Linked DNA regions of Homo sapiens. The protein of the gene in region 1 interacts with the protein of each later gene in a pairwise test. Each region holds a gene or a part of one and is shown in the gene's direction. Other genes may lie near its edges. The genes, in order: PDZD2, NRXN1 and PTCHD1.

Evidence for each region.
Region 2: the proteins of PDZD2 (region 1) and NRXN1 interact in a two-hybrid assay, tested with the Homo sapiens proteins (one study listed by BioGRID).
Region 3: the proteins of PDZD2 (region 1) and PTCHD1 interact in a two-hybrid assay, tested with the Homo sapiens proteins (one study listed by BioGRID and IntAct).

Annotation. Positions count from the first base shown.
Region 1 is NC_000005.10:32,083,071-32,090,184, forward strand, and holds part of PDZD2 (PDZ domain-containing protein 2), read left to right. Parts: intron 1-4,060; coding exon 4,061-7,114.
Region 2 is NC_000002.12:50,049,123-50,056,236, reverse strand, and holds part of NRXN1 (neurexin-1 isoform alpha4 precursor), read left to right. Parts: intron 1-1,192; coding exon 1,193-1,282; intron 1,283-2,646; coding exon 2,647-2,966; intron 2,967-7,114.
Region 3 is NC_000023.11:23,337,849-23,344,962, forward strand, and holds part of PTCHD1 (patched domain-containing protein 1), read left to right. Parts: intron 1-7,114. UniProt on the Homo sapiens protein: Required for the development and function of the thalamic reticular nucleus (TRN), a part of the thalamus that is critical for thalamocortical transmission, generation of sleep rhythms, sensorimotor processing and attention. Can bind cholesterol in vitro.

The DNA of each region.
Region 1 (7,114 bases):
TAGCATAAAAATCAGCTAAGCCCAAGTGAAAAACCTCTGTTAATATTTTGGTCTGTATCATTTGAGTCTTGTGCGTATATGGGTGTGAATAAATATATAGTCCTGTGCTTTTTTTGTCTTTTTGCCAAAAAAAAAAAAAAAATCCACTGTGGTAGTCACCAGTACCTAACAACCTTTTTAAACCTCATACATCCACACGAAATAATATTTGAGCAGCCTGCTGGCATCAGTAAGACTGCTCCTCAGCCCATGGGCCTGACCTAGCAGGCTGTCCCTCGCACTGACCACTCTGCTGTCAGCACACCCATAGCCTACTCTAGGAAACCGCACTGCTATCCTGCAGGCTCTTCTACACCCGACATCACCTGGAGAGGCTGCTGGGCCTTCCACCCCACGGATGTGCTGTAACGAGTCAACCTTCCTCCCATGATTGGGCATTTCGAACGTTTCCAGAGAAAAGGTTGTCTTGAAAGGTGACAACCAAAGGCTGCCTCAGTGTAACCTCGTCTCCCTCAGATGAAGACCTTTTAAGTTACAGACTTTGCAATAAAGTCAAATTGCTAACATGAATTGCCTGTTTAGGTTTATTCAGTGAGCGAATATGAAATTTGTTTATTTTTGAGACGGATTCTTGCTCTGTCGCTCAGGCTGGATGGAGTACAGTGGCTCGATCTCGGCTCACTGCAACCTCCGCCTCCCAGGTTCAGGCAGTTCTCCTGCCTCAGCCTCCCAAGCAGCTGGGATTACAGACGTGCACCACCACACCTGGCTAATTTTTGTATTTTTAGTAGAGATGGGATTTCCCCATGTTGGCCAGGCTGGTTTCGAACTCCTGACCTCAAGTGATCTGCCTGGCCTCAGCATCCCAAAGTGCTGGGATTACAGGCATGAGCCACCGCCCACGGCCTGAATATGAAATTTAAAAACAGAGTTTAAATCCCCTCCTTTTGTGTCATTGCTACTCCCCACCACCACCCGCACTACCGCCCATATTTGCTGTCACCAGAAGCAGGAACATTATGCTTAAGGGGAAGTTCAAAAAAGGTTGAGCAGAGAAGGAGAAGAGCACGTGGCTTTGAGTCTTGGCAGGCCCCTGGCCTTCCACAGTGGGCCTGGAAAGCTAGTAGCTAGTACGGTCTCCATGGGGATCTCGACGATCCAACCTTTTGATTGCCAAGGGCTCTCCACACAGAGGCCACATAGTCAGGGTTTAGGCAGTAGCATGGGCTGTGGAGCCAGCTTCCTGGGGCGACCGCTGGCTCTGCCACCTGTGAACTCTGACCTCAGACACATTGCTTAACCACGCTGTTTCTCCGTCCTCATCCTTCCAATGCAGATGGTCACAGGACATACCTCAGTGTTAGGAGGAAAATTAAATGTGTACAAAACTCTTAGCACAGTGTTAACTCCTTAATTATTGGAAAACCTCTTAGCACAGGGCTGAGTCCTAATAATTAGTTCTTAATTATTCACATAGCAAGGTCAGCAGGTTAAAAAAATGCAATTAAGATGATTTTATGTGAGAGCTGTGGAACGAACATAATATTTGGGGAAGAGTTGGTTTGACTTAATTCTCAAACCAAGAGCTTTCATGGAACTTCATTTTTCACTCCAACCTCAGACCCATAGTTCCTAAGAAAATAGCTTTGTTCTTTCTGATGCCAGATTTTTTTTCCCTGTTGCAAGATGCTGTGTGTCTGAGGTGGAAGATTAGCCCAAGACTATGCAGGGCCTTATGAACAGGCACTTTCAGGAGTGAGTGGCTGTTGGAACCCACCTCCTAGATGACTTCCCACTGTCCACTGGCACACATCCCCTTGCCCTGCCACCTCCAAGATTTCAGGCTCTTTCTTGCTTCTCTGCTTTCATTCTGTTGCCTTTTTTTTTTTTTTTTTTTTTTTTTTGAGACAGAGTCTTGCTCTGTTGCCCAGGCTTGAAGGCAGTGGTGCAATCTCAGCTCACTGACCTCTACCTCCTGGGTTCAAGCGAATCTCGTGCCTCAGCCTCCCAAGTAGCTGGGATTACAGGTGCATGCCACCATGCCTGGTTAATTTTTGTATTTTTCGTAGAGATAGGGTTTCACCATGTTGGCCAAGCTGGTCTCAAACTCCTGACAAGTGATCCACCTGCCTTGGCCTCCCAAAGTGCTGGGATTACAGGCGTGATCCACCGTGCCCAGCTGCCTTTTTTTTTTTTTAATTGACACATAATTGTACATACTTATGGAGCACAAAGTGGTACTTCAGTACATATATACATTGTGCAATGATTAAATCAGGGTAATTAGCATATCCATCACATCAAATGTATCATGTCTTTGTGGTAGGAACATCCCAAATTCTCTCTTCTAGCTATTTCAATAAATGCAATACCTTATTATTATTTTTTTTTTTTGAGACGGAGTCTTGCTCTGTTACTCAGGCTGGAATACAATGGCATGATCTTGGCTCACTGCAACTCCACCTCCCAGGTTCAAGCGATTCTCCTGCCTCAGCCTCACAAGTAGCTGGGATTACAGGCGTGTGCCACCACACTCAGCTAATTTTTGTATTTTTAGTAGAGACGGGAATTTCACCATGTTGGCCAGGCTGGTCTCGAACTCTTGACCTCAGGTGATCCACCCGCCTTGGCCTCCCAAAGTGCTGGGATTACAGGCGTGAGCCACCATGCCCAGCCCTGTTTTTGTTGTGTTGTTGTTGTTTTGTTTTGTCTTTTGTTTTTTTTACACTCAAACTGCCTTGGCTATTCAGAGTCCTTTGTGGTTCCATGCACATTTTACAACTGTTTTTTTTTTTTCTATTTCTGTAAAAAATGTCATTGGAATTTTGGTAGGAATTGTACCGAATCTATAGATGACTTTGGGTAGTATGGACATTTTAACGGTACTCTTCCATTGTCTTCCTTACCTTCCTCCTCCTCACTCTCTGGCCAAACTCCCCTTGTCAGCCCCATTCATGTCCCCACCTCCTCTGTCAAGTCTTCCTGGGATAATCTGGCTTCTCACTCTCCCACTCCTCTGAATTCGTCAAGACAGCCAGAGCTCGGTGTAGACCTGTATCCCAGCTTTCGTATTCTGTATGTTTTCCCTAGTTAGCCTCAGCCCCTGCACTAAAAAGGAAGCCTCTTGAGCTCGGCACTTGGACTGTTTTACACTGAAGTACATCATTCACATCCCCCAGTGTGAGCCAAACCCACACACCACTGGCCAGATACTGGGACTGAGAGGTCCATGAGGGCCCTGCTGCATCCACGCAGGAGTAGGGAACCAAATAGAACAAGAGCCTGACGCTTGCGGCTTTGCCATCAGAGGGTGAATGGCATAAAGAGACCCAAGTGTGCAATGATTAAATCAGGGTAATCAGCATATCCATCACATCAAATGTATCATTTCTTTGTGGTAGGAACATCTGCCATCATAGAAATACCAAAAGAGAGAAAAATGGGCAGATGTAAATGTTTCTTCTGCCGGCTAATCTGAGTTCTCTTAGAGCGTCTAAAGCAGGGTGGTATTTGTTAGATGTGGGTACTCTATAATTTTAGAGAGAAAACCAGGAAGACAAGAAGGGCCTCCATTTAGGCCACAGAACGCCGTTTTGTTGTTGTTGTTGTTGTTGTTGTTTTCTGAGACGGAGTTTCGCTCTTTTTGCCCAGGCTGCAGTGCAATGGCACATTCTCGGCTCACTGCAACCTCCACCTCCCAGGTTCAAGCAATTCTCCTGCCTCAGCCTCCCAAGTAGCTGGGATTACAGGTGCCCACCCCCATGCCCAGCTAATTTTTTTTTTTTTTTTTTTTTTTTTAGTAGAGATGGGGTTTCACCATGTTGGCCAGGCTGGTCTCGAACTCCTGACCTCAGGTGATCCACCCGCCTCCGCCTCCCAAAGTGCTGGGATTACAAGCATGCGCCACCACGCCCAGCTTTCTGAAAAAGAAAAAAATATTTGAGGTTGTTTATAATTTTCTAGTTTTTAATAATTGAGGGGCTGCTTTCTTATATTATCCCTTTTATCTCCCCTACAACCTCTCCTGTGTATGTACCTTCTGTTTACGTTCCCCACGTAGAACTGGACAGCTCCTCAGACCTCATCTCTTCCCCAGGGAAGAAGGGGGCCGCTCATCCTGACCCCAGCAAGACCTCTGTAGACACAGGGCAAGTCAGTCGGCCAGAGAATCCCAGCCAGCCTGCATCGCCCAGGGTCACCAAGTGCAAGGCCAGGTCTCCAGTCAGGCTCCCCCATGAGGGCAGCCCCTCCCCGGGGGAGAAAGCAGCGGCTCCCCCTGACTACAGCAAGACTCGATCAGCATCGGAAACCAGCACACCCCACAATACCAGGAGGGTGGCTGCCCTCAGGGGAGCGGGACCTGGAGCAGAGGGAATGACACCAGCTGGTGCTGTCCTGCCAGGAGACCCCCTCACATCCCAGGAGCAGAGACAGGGAGCTCCAGGTAACCACAGTAAGGCTCTGGAAATGACAGGAATCCATGCACCTGAAAGCTCCCAGGAGCCTTCCCTGCTGGAGGGAGCAGATTCTGTGTCCTCAAGGGCACCGCAGGCCAGCCTCTCCATGCTGCCATCCACTGACAACACCAAAGAAGCATGTGGCCATGTCTCGGGGCACTGCTGCCCAGGGGGGAGTAGAGAGAGCCCTGTGACGGACATTGACAGCTTCATCAAGGAGCTGGATGCTTCTGCAGCAAGGTCTCCGTCTTCCCAGACGGGGGACAGTGGCTCTCAGGAGGGCAGTGCTCAGGGCCACCCACCAGCCGGGGCTGGAGGTGGGAGCTCCTGCCGTGCCGAACCAGTCCCGGGGGGCCAGACCTCCTCCCCGAGGAGGGCCTGGGCTGCTGGTGCCCCCGCCTACCCACAATGGGCCTCCCAGCCTTCGGTTTTAGATTCAATTAATCCCGACAAACATTTTACTGTGAACAAAAACTTTCTGAGCAACTACTCTAGAAATTTTAGCAGTTTTCATGAAGACAGCACCTCCCTATCAGGCCTGGGTGACAGCACGGAGCCGTCTCTGTCATCCATGTATGGCGATGCTGAGGATTCTTCTTCTGACCCTGAGTCACTCACTGAAGCCCCACGAGCTTCTGCCAGGGACGGCTGGTCCCCTCCTCGTTCCCGTGTGTCTTTGCACAAGGAAGATCCTTCGGAGTCAGAAGAGGAACAGATTGAGATTTGTTCCACACGTGGCTGCCCCAATCCACCCTCGAGTCCTGCTCATCTTCCCACCCAGGCTGCCATCTGTCCTGCCTCAGCCAAAGTTCTGTCATTAAAATACAGCACTCCGAGAGAGTCGGTGGCCAGTCCCCGTGAGAAGGCCGCCTGCTTGCCAGGCTCATACACTTCAGGCCCAGACTCTTCCCAGCCATCATCACTCTTGGAGATGAGCTCTCAGGAGCATGAAACTCATGCGGACATAAGCACTTCACAGAACCACAGGCCCTCGTGTGCAGAAGAAACCACAGAAGTCACCAGCGCTAGCTCAGCCATGGAAAACAGTCCGCTGTCTAAAGTAGCCAGGCATTTTCACAGTCCGCCCATCATTCTCAGCTCCCCCAACATGGTAAATGGCTTGGAACATGACCTGCTAGATGACGAAACCCTGAATCAATACGAAACAAGCATTAATGCAGCTGCCAGTCTGTCCTCCTTCAGTGTGGATGTCCCTAAGAATGGAGAATCTGTTTTGGAAAACCTCCACATCTCTGAAAGTCAAGACCTGGATGACTTGCTACAGAAACCAAAAATGATCGCTAGGAGGCCCATCATGGCCTGGTTTAAAGAAATAAATAAACATAACCAAGGCACACATTTGAGGAGCAAAACCGAGAAGGAACAACCTCTAATGCCTGCCAGAAGTCCCGACTCCAAGATTCAGATGGTGAGTTCAAGCCAAAAAAAGGGCGTTACTGTGCCTCATAGCCCTCCTCAGCCGAAAACAAACCTGGAAAATAAGGACCTGTCTAAGAAGAGTCCGGCAGAAATGCTTCTGACTAATGGTCAGAAGGCAAAGTGTGGTCCGAAGCTGAAGAGGCTCAGCCTCAAGGGCAAGGCCAAAGTCAACTCTGAGGCCCCTGCTGCGAATGCTGTGAAGGCTGGGGGGACGGACCACAGGAAACCCTTGATCTCACCCCAGACCTCCCACAAAACACTTTCTAAGGCAGTGTCACAGCGGCTCCATGTAGCCGACCACGAGGACCCTGACAGAAACACCACAGCTGCCCCCAGGTCCCCCCAGTGTGTGCTGGAAAGCAAGCCACCTCTTGCCACCTCTGGGCCACTGAAACCCTCAGTGTCTGACACGAGCATCAGGACATTTGTCTCGCCCCTGACCTCTCCCAAGCCTGTTCCTGAGCAAGGCATGTGGAGCAGGTTCCACATGGCTGTCCTCTCTGAACCCGACAGAGGTTGCCCAACCACCCCTAAATCTCCTAAGTGTAGAGCAGAGGGCAGGGCGCCCCGTGCTGACTCCGGGCCGGTGAGTCCGGCAGCGTCTAGGAACGGCATGTCCGTGGCAGGGAACAGACAGAGTGAGCCGCGCCTGGCCAGCCATGTGGCAGCAGACACAGCCCAACCCAGGCCGACTGGCGAAAAAGGAGGCAACATAATGGCCAGCGATCGCCTCGAAAGAACAAACCAGCTGAAAATCGTGGAGATTTCTGCTGAAGCAGTGTCAGAGACTGTATGTGGTAACAAGCCAGCTGAAAGCGACAGACGGGGAGGGTGCTTGGCCCAGGGCAACTGTCAGGAGAAGAGTGAAATCAGGCTCTATCGCCAGGTCGCAGAATCATCCACAAGTCATCCATCCTCACTCCCATCTCATGCCTCCCAGGCAGAGCAGGAAATGTCACGATCATTCAGCATGGCAAAACTGGCGTCCTCCTCCTCCTCCCTTCAAACAGCCATTAGAAAGGCAGAATACTCCCAGGGAAAATCAAGCCTGATGTCAGACTCCCGAGGGGTGCCCAGAAACAGCATTCCAGGGGGCCCCTCGGGGGAGGACCATCTCTACTTCACCCCAAGGCCAGCGACCAGGACCTACTCCATGCCAGCCCAGTTCTCAAGCCATTTTGGACGGGAGGGTCACCCCCCACACAGCCTGGGTCGCT
Region 2 (7,114 bases), on another chromosome or scaffold:
TAAAATGTAAATCTATTCATTTATCTTCTCTAACAAAACACTCCAGTCTTTTTATGCAGATAGTGCTACCATTCAACATTTCTTTCACCTCTGAGTCCTCATCTGAGCTAATGCCAAAATGTCTTGGCTTAAATTTCCATGTTAGTTAACTCTAATGGAATAGAAAATCTCTTCTTGCATTATACACAACTCAACACCGAGATGGTGTCTCAGATTCTTCGTAAGTGCTCTACAGATCAAGAAAACACTCATCTATTTGCAAGCAATATTCAAGGTCAATTTAAACAGTGTTTCTAGCAGATAATTTTTTATGCAAAGAAGCAGGGCTCTCACTTAGGTTAGATCTATGAATAGGGGCCACTGTTTGTGGCTTATATTCGTTCCTTAAGCTGTCATGCTTTTAAAGAATAACTTAATAAAAAGCAGATATTTGACTATATAAAAACATACATATAATTATTTTTTCAAATGTTATTTGCTTCAACATGTTAAGCTTTAAATGAAACTCAAGGACACTCAAATAAAGTGACTTTTGTCAAAGCCTTTTCCTGTAATAACGTATCTGGATGATGCAAGATGCATTCTCTTGTGATGTCCAAGTGATTGATAAATCAATTTGTGTGAAATACACAAGAACTATTTGGACTTTGTTGTTTTCTTAAATGAGGTGAATAAGAATTTCTGTTTTCTGACTAGGAAATAAAGTATGCTAGGCCTATTGTAGATGCTTCAGTGTGCCAAATATGGTATTAAGTTTGGTGATCATAAATTATTAATCTGGAATAAGAGGTTGAATGTATTTTGAAAACTTAAACCTGTTTCACCTGAACATGTTTAACTAGTTAATAAGAAACATCAAAAAGACAAAACCCTGAGGTCATTGGTCATTTTTTGTAAAGCTATTATATGCTGTTTAAATTGGTTGTTCGGGTCTGTCTATAACATAAGTTTAATAACCTAGCTCAAATGCAGATTTCTAATTTTCAATTAACATAGGAATAATTTTGTTTGCTAAAATAAAATAAATGAATGAATGACAAGTCTGAAACATGAAATGTTCTAGGTAGAACTTTTTAAAATTCCAAATTTCAAAAAATCATGTGGCAACTGTATAGCTCAATCTTTAAGTATTAACTTTTAACCTTTGACCTTACAGATTTTAACCAATGAAATGTCTCTTTAAACTTTAAAGGAAACAATGATAACGAGCGCCTGGCGATTGCTAGACAGCGAATTCCATATCGACTTGGTCGAGTAGTTGATGAATGGCTACTCGACAAAGGTAAAAAACATTGATTAAAACTTCAAATAAAAAAATAATTTGAACATAACCAAGTAGTACTTCATTGTAACACTAATAAACATAAAAAATAAATTTTCCGTAAAACTAAATTAAAAACAACTTTAAAACAGTAAAATGTAGATAGTAATATTTGCATACCTTGTATAATAATTTCTATACATTTTTAGACGTACCAGCTGTTTAATAATCTTACCCAGTTAACTTAAGGTTAAAGGGACTGTTAAATATAATCCACTAACTCAATCTATGAGGGTACTCACAGCAAGCATTAACCCAAAATGATAAATCATTCATAGACTATATTACATGTTCCAGCCTCTAAATTATTAACTAAAATATATGTAGTTCTGATATCTTTATTATGGTCCTGAAAAAAACAAAAACTCTTTGTTTAAACTCTAGGAATCTTAAATAGTGGGCAATATGAATTGCCAGTCATAATGAAGTCCCTTTAACATTTGCAACCTTCTAAGAGGATTTGGGAACAAGCCCATATTAAAACTGAACTTAAAGTTGTGTGCATGCTTTTATGAGCAGAGAGCAATCTGCTAAAACTGGATACTCAATTTGATGATAATGGTACTGTTATTAAGGATTGCTGTTTGATGGAAATGTGCCATAATTTCTCCATCGGTTTGTGTATCATTCCTGAAGCCGCTTTTTACATCTGAAGCTATTTTTTTTTTTCATTTTGTTTTGTTTTGATAGACTTGCTGAAAGCCAATCAGAAAAATATTTTTGGAATTTTTTTGTCTCTGACATGCTCAGTGTAAACCATGAATTTCTTTTCAGTGTGATTGCCGGAAAAATAGAATAATTCAAATAACAATGAATAATTGCCTTCAAAAAATAAACAGCACTAAAGAATAACATATAGATATATGTGGACATTATGTGAATTATGAAATTTTTACCATAAAATTTAAATTAGATTTCAGCTGCTATGTATTAGTTTCTGTCAGTGGTAATTTCAGAATGACAAATACTTGAAATGTTGTCTTACATTTTTAAAATTTAACAATTTAGACTTTAGACACCAACAATATAAGATCTTGATGTAAAAGGGAAAAGGGATCCACTAAAAACTGATTTGTAATACATATCTTTGATTGGTCTTTTAGCAAAAGCACTACATTTATAATAAGTTGAGAATTTACAAGTATTTGCCAATAATTATGCATTTCATGGACACCTCATTTATAAGCAATGAATTATGAGTCAAATGCCTCTCTTATAGTTTATTGCTCTCATTATTCACCCCATAAAAGATCTGTTTTATCATCCATTGTAGATATAGAGTTCACAATCAACATTTTTGCATGTATGTAATATTATTTTTACAGGGCGTCAGCTCACAATCTTCAATAGCCAAGCAACCATAATAATTGGCGGGAAAGAGCAGGGCCAGCCCTTCCAGGGCCAGCTCTCTGGGCTGTACTACAATGGCTTGAAAGTTCTGAATATGGCAGCCGAAAACGATGCCAACATCGCCATAGTGGGAAATGTGAGACTGGTTGGTGAAGTGCCTTCCTCTATGACAACTGAGTCAACAGCCACTGCCATGCAATCAGAGATGTCCACATCAATTATGGAGACTACCACGACCCTGGCTACTAGCACAGCCAGAAGAGGAAAGCCCCCGACAAAAGAACCCATTAGCCAGGTGAGCCTGTGGATTTTATTCCTTCATTTTCATCCTATATTATTTATGATAGTGGGCTTTTCTGCATATGCGTCTTTTCTAAATTGGAACATTTTTCTGATCTTAGGCACTACAGCTTCCTTTGAAACTAGCTTAACATAATGCATTCCGTTTGAATATGAAATGTGTGTATGTTGTTCATTAGAGGTTTGTGGACTTTTACAAAAGATTTTGTTTTGGTTTGTTAGATGCTAAATGATAGTCTTGATTCCATAACCCTCCTCTGGCCCAAGCTGAGTAGATCGTCTGCTAATTACATAGGATTTTCACTTTTTAGTTTAAATGAACAAGTTAATGAAATATTTGAAAACCTTGTCTGTTTAAGCTCAGCACTTCAAAATAAAATCAAGGCAAATTTAATCTTAAAAGAGATATTTTAATAGTACAATACTTCTATAGTATTTTGAAGTTTAAAGTTTTGAATTGATAGCCAGCCATGTGGCTTTCTTGGTGAATGATGGGTATACTCTTTCACTATTTATTTAAAAATAAAAAAACATTCTATTGGTTTATCTGAGCACACAAACCCAAAATATGAGGTATTTTGTGTATGTGATTAATTGCCCTCACCTACAATTAACTCTAATTAGCTTATTTCAATCTTGTGCCTAAAATTTTTGAAGAATATGATTTTTAAATGTGGCATTTGCACAACTTGGAAGTATGTTAATTCAATCAGGACATAATTATTGATTGCCTACTACATTTCAGGCACTGGTTTGAATATTGGTGTTCCATCAGTGAAGAACACAGGGAAAAAAAAACCTTATTCGAAATGCTGTTAGATGCTGTTCAAATGCCATTAGATTCCTGTTGGTATTTGCAGCCTTTGTATGTATCCAGTTGTTAATTTTTTCAGAATTGTGTATTATCCTTGGTCCAAAATTAATTGTTTCGTTTTGTTCTGTTTTACTGATAGTGAGTATATTCAGTAGGTGCCATTTAAAGCTTTTCCAAATACACGATCCCTACTTTTCCAGAAAAATGCATTCTGAAGAAGCAAGAATGATAATTATATTTAAATTTGCTTTTACTTCTTGCATTTGAAACAGACCTGCATCCAGTTTGGAAGGAAAATAATAGAAGGCAAATTCTGTTTGTATCAGCACCCCAAATATGAATTAACATGTTTCCCAGAAAATGAAGAAAATTGACTCTGATTTTTACTTTGAATGGAAAAGGGTGAGAGGAACAGAATAGATGAAGAGAAAATGTCCTAGAAGAGGGATGGGCAAAAAATACAAAAAATGCAAATTAAATGTAGTGTTGGATATATTGTACCTACATGTGCACTTATTTTCATTTTTCTCTCTTTTCTTTTCGTTTCCTATTTGCATGTGGCTACAAAATAAAATGGGATGTCTTATAGGGTGTTCACAAATATATATTTATTGATCACTGTCTACATGTGCCAGATACTTTTCTAGGCATGAGGATATATTGGTAACAGCAAACGAAACCCCTGCCCTCAAAGAATATACATTTTAGTAGGACTGTTTGCCTGCAATGTGATCCTTTTGTTGATTTTCTCTCGTTAGGATTTATAAGGTTGCCAATAACATCATAGCACTTAGTTCCTTGGATAAAGACTTGTGACTTTAGAAAGATTTATGTTTGCCCAATAGCTCCATTTAACATTCTTTGCTAATGTTTCATTAATGATTTGTTACTGCTGTAGATTTATGGTTCACTTACTGATAAGCAAGTTATTACAGTAAATCTGATACAGGAAAAATGAAACAAATAAATTGATAGACTTTCCTTTATCTAAAATAATTCACAAGAGGACATTCAGAGTTAGGAATGCTTTTATGAATATAATTTGAAATAATCAGGTATTTTTCTTAGTAGTCTTGTTTTATCATTAATGAGATTACAGTTGCCAAATCTCCTATATAAACCAGGTGTGTCCCAAAAGAAGAAAATATTATCAGCATTGGTTTTATGTATTTTGTCAATTAGTAACATATATTAAGAAATATTATTTTTAAGTACAAAACAGCTGTTTCATTTGAAAGCTAAATACGTAGAAATGCAGAAATAAAGATTTATGCATTTTATAATATTAAAATGCAGAAGGTAAAGAGTTAACTGCTCCTTAATTGCCAATGAAAAGAGCCTCTTTTATTATAAGCTATTACATGTTTGAAGACAGCAGCAGTTTATAGATGTAAATGATCTAATTAATTAGTGAATACTTGGTTCATTTGAGGAGATATTGACTTAAATAAAAGATTATTAGGTTCATTTAAAAATAGATATTTAAAATTGTTAGCTTTGTAATAAACCAGTGACAGTAATTAAAGAATTTGACTTAATATGTTACAAGTATTCAGTAGTAGCAACAGTATTTTAAAGTTGGGCTAATAGGTTTTAAAAGTCTCTTAAGTAGTGAGATATATATATGAATACAGATAACAACACATGTATGTATGGGGAAAAAACATTAGGGAAGAAAGCAATTTATTTATATTTGAGTGACAGAATAATTTGTTGAAAATTTTCCATAATTCGTAATTGACTTTTCAATTGTCCTCTAAATACAGTAATATTTAAACCAGGAAGTTTAAATATGAGATAAATTTCTAATGTTAATTTCGAAACTGTAAACTTTGACCTATTTTTACAGGTTGGATGAAGCATCTTCCTTTAAATGTTGTCTATAGTGGCCATATCCGCCTGCTTTTATCAACTGTCTTACTAAATTGTGTATCAGAAAGGGTCATTTCATTTTTCAAAAGCCACACTGGACTGTTTTCTCAATCAAAGTGCATTTTTCTCAGTGATAACACTGAGCCACTTAAGCTACAATGGCAATGTACCTTGGGGTGATTGCATGTTTTAAAACTATGGAAACAGATTTTTGGTCAGGCAGAATTAAATTGGACTCATTTCAAATAGATGAGATGAGGTTTGTTCAGCCATCCTGCAGGGATAGTAATAGGGAAGAAATGTATTTCAGTTTTCACAGACTCAGAGAATATAGTAGTGTTCATCAAAATATCCTCCATAAAGTCCTGTTTATATTCCTACTTAAAGTAAATATCCTTTTAAAAGTAAAAAAAAAAAAAAGAAGTTTTGCTTTGAATGATAATCAATTTTCAGCCCAATGTTTACTTTAGGAAGATGTGATTTATATCAAGAAATAATAGGGACATTTACCAAAACTTCTGATCGAATTGTTCCTTTTTAATGTGAATATAACAATATTGATAGTACTTTTTATGTGGATTACATAAAATTTATAAAATTTATAAAATTCATTTTACTTGGAATATTTAATTTTTAAATGTTTCCATAAGGCCTCCTGATTTTATGAAACTTTCCAGAAGGCTAATCTCAGAAAGCAAATATTCACAAAAACTATTGGTGGTATAAAGTTCTTTGAGATTCTGAGAGCTTCTTGGCATGTGGCAGGAGTATCATGCAAGTTTTTTGGCTGCTAAATGTTCCCCCTCTTCTAATTAAACTTGCAATGTCTTATGAGATGAGTACATGTAAGCCAACATGAAGAGGACAACACTTCCTTCCTTTGCCTGTCCACAAAGAAAGGAAAATTGAACTGTGCTGTTTCTTTTACGATCAAGCTTGTGACATCGTTTCTGGAATGTTCTTTATAGCACATTTTACGATCTTTTTGTTCTTTCCTTCGAGAATATTTTACAAGCTACATACATACTATAGAGAATACATACATACTGTAGAGAGATTGTAGTATAATGGAAAGAGCATGATGAATGAGGAGACCTGGTTTCCACTTTCAACACAACCACCTATCTCGTCATGTGACTTGGACAACTTGGGTCACATCATTGTACTTTGGCCTTGCTGCCTCTGTAAAATAAGTAGGTTGAACTAGGAAACTCTTAAGTTGTACTCAGCTCTAAGATTTCTTTGATTCTAGTGATGATGCTCTTAATTAGGTCTTCTCATGATTATTTACCAAAACATAGATTTCACCTCTGTCTTCCATCATGTGGCCATGCAGCCCAGTTGGCCTGGATAGTACCTGTGCATACCTGATGTTCAGTGTAATTATTAATAGTATATTTTTGACTCTCAAAAGTATGCCATTTGGTCTATAAATTATATTATACTCTACTTTTACA
Region 3 (7,114 bases), on another chromosome or scaffold:
CTCTTAATGTTTTGGGATTGTACCTGTGCAGTGAAGGAGATCCTTCTTGGGATATTGGTCCCACTATTTGCTGACAAAAAAAAAATAGACTGGGAGGGAGTGATGACAGAAAACGAAAAGCCAGGTTGACGTTTTTAAATGTAATTGAGAGTATTACAGAAAAATATCTGTATTTCAAAAATCCAGCTGATCTGGTTTGGAGGAGCTTTCTCGAATATGCGCAAGTGATATGATTACCATACTCTGACCACTGTAGCTTAGAAGTTGACCCCACACTGTGAGGCATGACTCCCCCCAGCGTTGGTTTCCCCTGAAGGCTACAGGGCAACGATGCATTATTAGGCAAAAGTGGGTAGGACCTGGTGGTGCTGATAAGGGCTCATGCAGTAATTTCTGAACCTCTTTACATACATGCTGCTCTTCAAACATCTTCCTTTTCCTAGAAAATTAAATTTAGCTGATTATATCTTTTAACAGAAGATCCATGATGTTCATCTCAAAGCAAATTTCAAAGGAGGGCCTCACAAGCTTTTATAGATACGTTTCGTTGCGATCACCTAAAATGAAGTGTAAGTAGGTCCCTTTGATAATTGATCCAGGCTGTTAACAAAACAATTCTTGATTTATTCCGGAATCATCTATTTAAAGTGAAGAATCAGTACAGCCCAGTACTTATGATAATGACATCATCTTTATAGGACTTTATAGGTTAGAAATATACAGTATGTTTAAATACAGTAAATTGGGAAAAATGCTATATCCCATTTTACATATGAGAAAACTACTTCTTAGAAGTTAACTGACTTGTCCATGGGAAAAAATACAAGGCTAGAACCAGGACTGGACTGGACCCAGGGTTTTGGACTCCAAGCCCAGTGTGCTTTTCATTGTAATTTACTTTCATATGATACACTACTGGAATGATTTAAAATGTACATTTTTGTTATCCAAATGAAGTACAGTTGACCAAAGTTTTATATCCCATCCCATCCAGTTGTTCTAATAGTGGTAATTGGATCATAAGAATATTTTTCTTGACTGATTCTGTCTAGTGTCAATTAAAATCCACATACAGAAACTCCAAATACCCAAAGTAAAGCATAAGATATTTATAATTAACAATATACAAGGATAGAAAGAAGATTTTTTTGGAAAAAAAATCTCTGGATGATTGAATGTAGCTGCTTCCTGATTGAGTGCTGCTCATTGGCAGGGTCCAGGTTGACTGAACTTTAGTGCCTTACACACTCCCTGGCACATAATAGCTACTCAATAAATACTTGTTGAATAGACCCTCCCTAGTTTACTCAGACATTTATGTGATGAGTTAAAGAAAATTCCATAAAAACGAATTTGAAATGTATTTACATAGTGAAATTTTTATTTTTACAACTTTACAGACAGTTACTAGGATTCTTTGTTTGCAAGATATCATTCTTCCCTCCTTGATAACCCCCGTAGTCATATCAAAGCGTATTTCAGTTTCAAAATTGGGTAGGGGAATTGCCTTTGTACAAAGTCCTCTTCTTCAGGGGAAACTCAGAATGTTTTATTCCAAACCACGGGAAGGACGCATCCTCACATAGCAAACATTCTTCCATTTACTAGGAGATCTCATTTCGCTCAAATATCAAGTTTCTGTTTTACTTAAAGCTTTTATGTTTAAATACATTAAATAGAATTAAGTTGCAAACAAGGTTAATAAAATCTAACCTTAAGTTATTTACTTCAGGCTTTCCAAGAAGGGCAGCATAACTGCTAGCTCGGGGTCACAAAGACTGGGTAGCTAGATCAAGATCATAGTTTTTCCAAATGCTGTCTCAACACTTGCAATCACTATGGGAATCACCATCATTTCTTCCTCCACAATCTAAGGATCAGCAAATTTCAGCCTAGTTTTTAACGTAGACTGAGTTTTTACAGTTTTAAAAGATTATAAACACAACAAAACAAAAACCAAGAAAGCTATATAGCAGAAATTGTGGCTCGCGAAGCCCGAGAGATTTGCTATCTGTACATTCAAAGTTCCTATGTTGTATTCTAAAATGTCATTACTAGAGCACTTTCAAGAAGTTAATACTGTGAATCTGTAAGGCAGTAGTTCTCAACCGGGGCTGACTGTGCACCCACCCAGGGGACATCTGGCAATGGCTGGAGACATTTTTGGTTGTCACAACTTGGGGAAGAGGCATGTGCTACTGGCATCTAGTGGGTAGAGGCACAGCGTAGCCCCCACAACAACAAAATTACCCAGCCCCAAATGTTAATAGTGCCAAGGTGGAGAAACTCTCTGCTTTGCATGTTTCTTTTGTTTTATAAAGATTCTTTTTTTGCTACTTTGATTATGTAAAATGAAAAAATGCCAAAGAGAAGTTCATAGAACTCTGGGGACAACTATTATGACCTCTGAGGTGATGCTCTCTTGGGCAGTTGAGCAGAGACCAGATTTTCCAGTGTAATCGTCCCCAAAATGCAGTTATCTTGCTCTCTTCGATGGCTCTGTCCCTTCAGGTCTAAATCCCACCTGCTGTAGAGGAGCCCAAGAAACTGAATGCAGTATAACTGCTTGAATGACGAAGGGGCTAAGTTGACACTGGCCTTTGAGACTTGTCCATTACTAGAGTGCCCATTATTGGCATGCCTTAAGCATCAGTCAGCAGCAGTCGCCCACTTAGGTCGGGCTTCTTCTGACAGTGTGTAAGACCCCACTGTGAGCAGCGACCTGAGGAGGCAGGAGGCAGTGCTTTGTTGCCTATTCCAGTCTCTCTGCTTTTCCAAGTATAAAATGACAAGAGAAGAGCTTGTATCAAAGAAACACGGAATCAAAGAACCTTCGGTTTAGAAGGCACCTTAAAGGTCATCTCCACAGAGGCTGATGCTAGAATCTTCTCTTAGCATCTCAGGGTGCTTTGTTTGGTGACAGGTGCTATGAAGCCTTGGGCAGTCCAGTCTCTTCTGGTGAGTTATCCAAGTGGCAGATACTCTTAGAAAAGATTGAGCCTGGGCCTGAAAGGGCAGCATTTGTGTATTTGCTGGGTCAGTCAATTGACTTTTACTCTTTATTTTTGTACTAGGGGAAAATTAAGGAGAGACTGAGATCGGTTTTCATTCTCCTTTCATTTCGTAGGTAGTGTATCCGAATAATCTAAGCACAGTCTCATCCTAGGGTTGTCTGACTTTTAAGTACATTTGATTTTTGCGATTAGTATGTAAAATGCCCACTTGTCTCATTTAGATTTGGGGAGCAGTCTTTTAATTCTCCATTTAGGTACACATTTGAGACAAACTTTGATTAAACTGAAATTTAGATATAAAGCCTTAGTGGGAGAGGAAGCCCACCTTTGTAATGACTCATGGCATCTTGATAGATGCCATATTAGAGTTAGGAAAGGATGATTCTATTTTAAATGACCACAAAAACTGAGCCTCTCAGGATTCACCAGACCTATAAAGCTCACAGGACAGTCAAGCATTGAACTGATGACTCCTTAAAAATACGAGAAGGAGAAGTAAGCTAACAGAAGTTATTTGTTTTCTACCTGAGTGTTTCCAGTCCCTTGGCACAAAAGCCAGGGAAATGTGAGATGCTGGTGAGCTGATCAACTTTGACTTTGTGGGATGTGCCATCTGGTACCTGATTTCGGGGCTCAGTGTGAGCCCCAAGTGATACTTGAGATAGGCTTAAAGCAGACCTTTGAAGTCACCTGCTTGATAGCACATCACAGCAAGCAGGCCTGTCTGCAGCACTGCCTGTGTCTCCGCCACATACCCGGAAGGCCACAGAACTACCGAGGAATCCTGCCAGACTGATTTAATGACCAGCAGGGGAGGTGAGTAATCGCTAACCTTTAAAAGACAAGAAAAGGAAAAAAAGAAAATCAACACCAGTTGTTATTTCTTACGGGAAGCCCTGAATAATATGTTGTGCTTGCAACTTCTGAATTCATATTTTGAACAAAAGGAGGCAGTGAGGAACTAGAAAAAGCTATTTTTATCTTCTTGCTCTCTAAGAAATCCTCTTGAGAATATTGTTTCTGCTATTTTGAAAGATCCCCATTGTTAGGTCTTCCACTTTAGGTTTAATTCATAGGCTTCAAGTACAGTTAAGATGATTTATGTAAGTGCAGTCGGTTATCTTGGGAGGTGATATCAGAAAAGGCTGATAGGGGAGTGGGGAAGTAAAACAGTGAGTAGCAGGAAGCCAATCAAGAGAGTATTATTAAGCAAGTGTCTACTGTGGGCAACTGGGGCTCAGTCTCACTAGGGAACTCTGGGAGACACTGTAGAATGTGTTGGAGAAATCTCAGTTGTGGATAAAGAAGCTGAATATTTTCTCCCCAACTCCAGCCATCATCGGCTGATTCAACTACATTTAGAAGCATTAAATTTCTGGCATTTTCATATGCTGTGTTTCTCCCTATATATATATATATATATATATATATATATATATATATATATATTTTTTTTTTTTTTTTTTTTTTAAAAGAATTGGGTACAGAGCTACAGGTGTTTGTGGCAAGCAACCTTAGCATGGAGAGGTGAGTGTGAGCTGAGACTATATGGGTGGGACCCTGAGAGCATCTGCCCTAAGGGTCTTATATTCATCTAGAGTTATACATCGAGAGATTTAGTGCCCCGTTTCTAGGGAATGGATATTCATCCCTTTACTCAACAAGATGGCTATGACCCTGTCTCCATGAAGCTTACAGTTAAGAATCATCCAGCATAGCTATTTAGTTATTCCCAAGTTTGACAAGTGCCAGTGGATGCTGGTAAAGATGACTCCAAACAGGGCCTAGACACCAACAGGATGTGTGGTTTTAGATGCCAGACCTCTACATTTGAGAGGCACATATTCATTCTCACCTTTATGAATACAGAAGTCTGCAGGCCCCCATCTTCACACATCTACTTTTGTTGTTCTCCCTAAAAGTGCCCTCCCTCCTCTCTTTAAGGACCAGTTCACATGCCTTCTACTTTATGAGGCTTTCTCAGATTCATGGCTTCTTCTCTCCCTTAAATCTATTGGGCTTTCATTCTTATACACATTCTTTAATGCAGAGCTGTAGACTCTTATGTAATTTGCTATATTGTCATGTGATCGTTTCTCTTAAGAGAGGTAATGAACTCTTCAGGGGCAGGAACAATGTCTGACACTGCCAGATCTCTCCTAGAGCCTAGCATAATGTGGAGTTTGCAGCAGGTGCTTAATAAATTGTTACTGGTTTATAGCTTGTAAGATGGAAAATGTGCTCTGCCTCCCTATTGATTTATTTTGGTCAAATATAATTTTGCCTGGTAGCATGACCATGTGATTTCTTGTGCTCTATATTCATTTTTCATCTTTGACAAATCTTGGTTTCAAACTTGTTGATAAGCAATAAGCATCCATTCTGTTTCCAGATCTGCTGCCATTTATATGAGGAGAAATTCTTGGAAAACCAAATATCTGACAACCTTCTCTGGTCCAAGTACAGTTTGGGAGGGTATGAACTTGACCTCAGTCCCCAATCAGTGGTGCATTTCCATGTGGGAGGGTGGATCCCTGTGCAGTTCCCAGTGAGCACCCTGGAACCCAAGTCCCCACACTACACATTCCCTTATTTACTTAAAGAAAAGTCTCAAAACATTGGCCACACCCATATTCAAATGTAAATAGGAAACACACTTAAAAGAAAACATCAAGGACAAGTGGTTTTCCTGACCATAGCACCAGTGTTCAGGAGATCACCATTCTGATGTTGCTTAGTCCCACTCTTCTTAAAAGTTAGCCCAGAGGAACAGAAAGTATTGTTCTAAGAGGCAAACTTAAAAGAAAATGATACTGGTACAAAATCAGCATATTTCTGTGAGTTTAATGGAAACACTAAAACTGCTAATTTTTCAGCGTGGAAGATAAAGATTCCTTTACCCATTCCTCCATGAGGCTCTCCTGCTGTCACTAATACCATGGCTTTGTCAATTCTTTCTAATTGTCTCAAGAAAAAATAATGCATCTCTGCTATAGAGCTGTCATTATAAATGCTCAAGAACATTTTGTGATATTTATACCTTAATTGTATGAGGTTTGAGTTGTTGGATTTTGTTTTTGGTCTTGTGGTATAGGCAAGTAGTCCTACTGAGTAAAGATTGTTTGATTGCTCTCAGACTTTCTAACATGCACACACGTCACCTAGGCATCTTGCTAAAATACAGACTGATTCAAAGGGTCTGGGGTGGGAACTGCAAGTCTGCATTTCTAACAAGATCTGAGGTGATGCTGATGCTACAGATCAGCAGAACACACTTGGAGTAGCAAGGCTCAAATTTAACTGTTGTAAACAGAAAACTGGATTTAGAATCAGGAAAGCCAAGTTCAAGTTCCAGTTCTCCTAAGTATGTATCTTTGGGCAAGTCACCTAACCTCCCTGAGAAACACGCTCCTTATTTGCACTGGGTGTAATAGCATCTCTTTCACCCACTTAAGGTAAAGATAGAATGAGATAAAGTATGTGAAGGCACTGTGTAACCATAGCCTTCTGTAAAGTGTGTTATCATTATTACTATTTACTTTGAAAATGACTGCTATTTCCTCACATGTGCCAGCTCTTTCAAAGCCATTATTGCCTGTTGAGTAATACACATGTAGCCACTTTTTTCTTTGATCCAACAGGCAATAATGGGTGCTCAAGCTACATTCAATACTCATATTGCCAATTTGTTGGTCTTTAATGACTCCATCTGAGTCATTACAGACAATTGGATTCAACCTACTGCTGAGCATGCAGCTCCTCTACCTGCAGAAAGTTCTTAGGCAGGCAGAGCTGCGGATGGGGATGGGTGCATTGCATTCCAGCACACCAACGTGGTTCCTCTGGGCTCAGAACCTACTCTTCATGCCTGATGGGGCTTTGCACACAAAAAAAGCCTTCACTTCCTGCCCAGGGAAGTGCCTTTTGAATTAAAGGTTCTGAGAGGCTGCGGGCTCTGGTTTCAGGGCTCTCCTCACCACATCTCACAGCACAGCATGCCAAAGAGGGATTCTCCAGTGATTTAGGTGAGAACGTTGATCATTCTCCTCTCTTACTGAATTTACATGACTACAGTGTTTCCCTGGGAAATCTCGTCCACA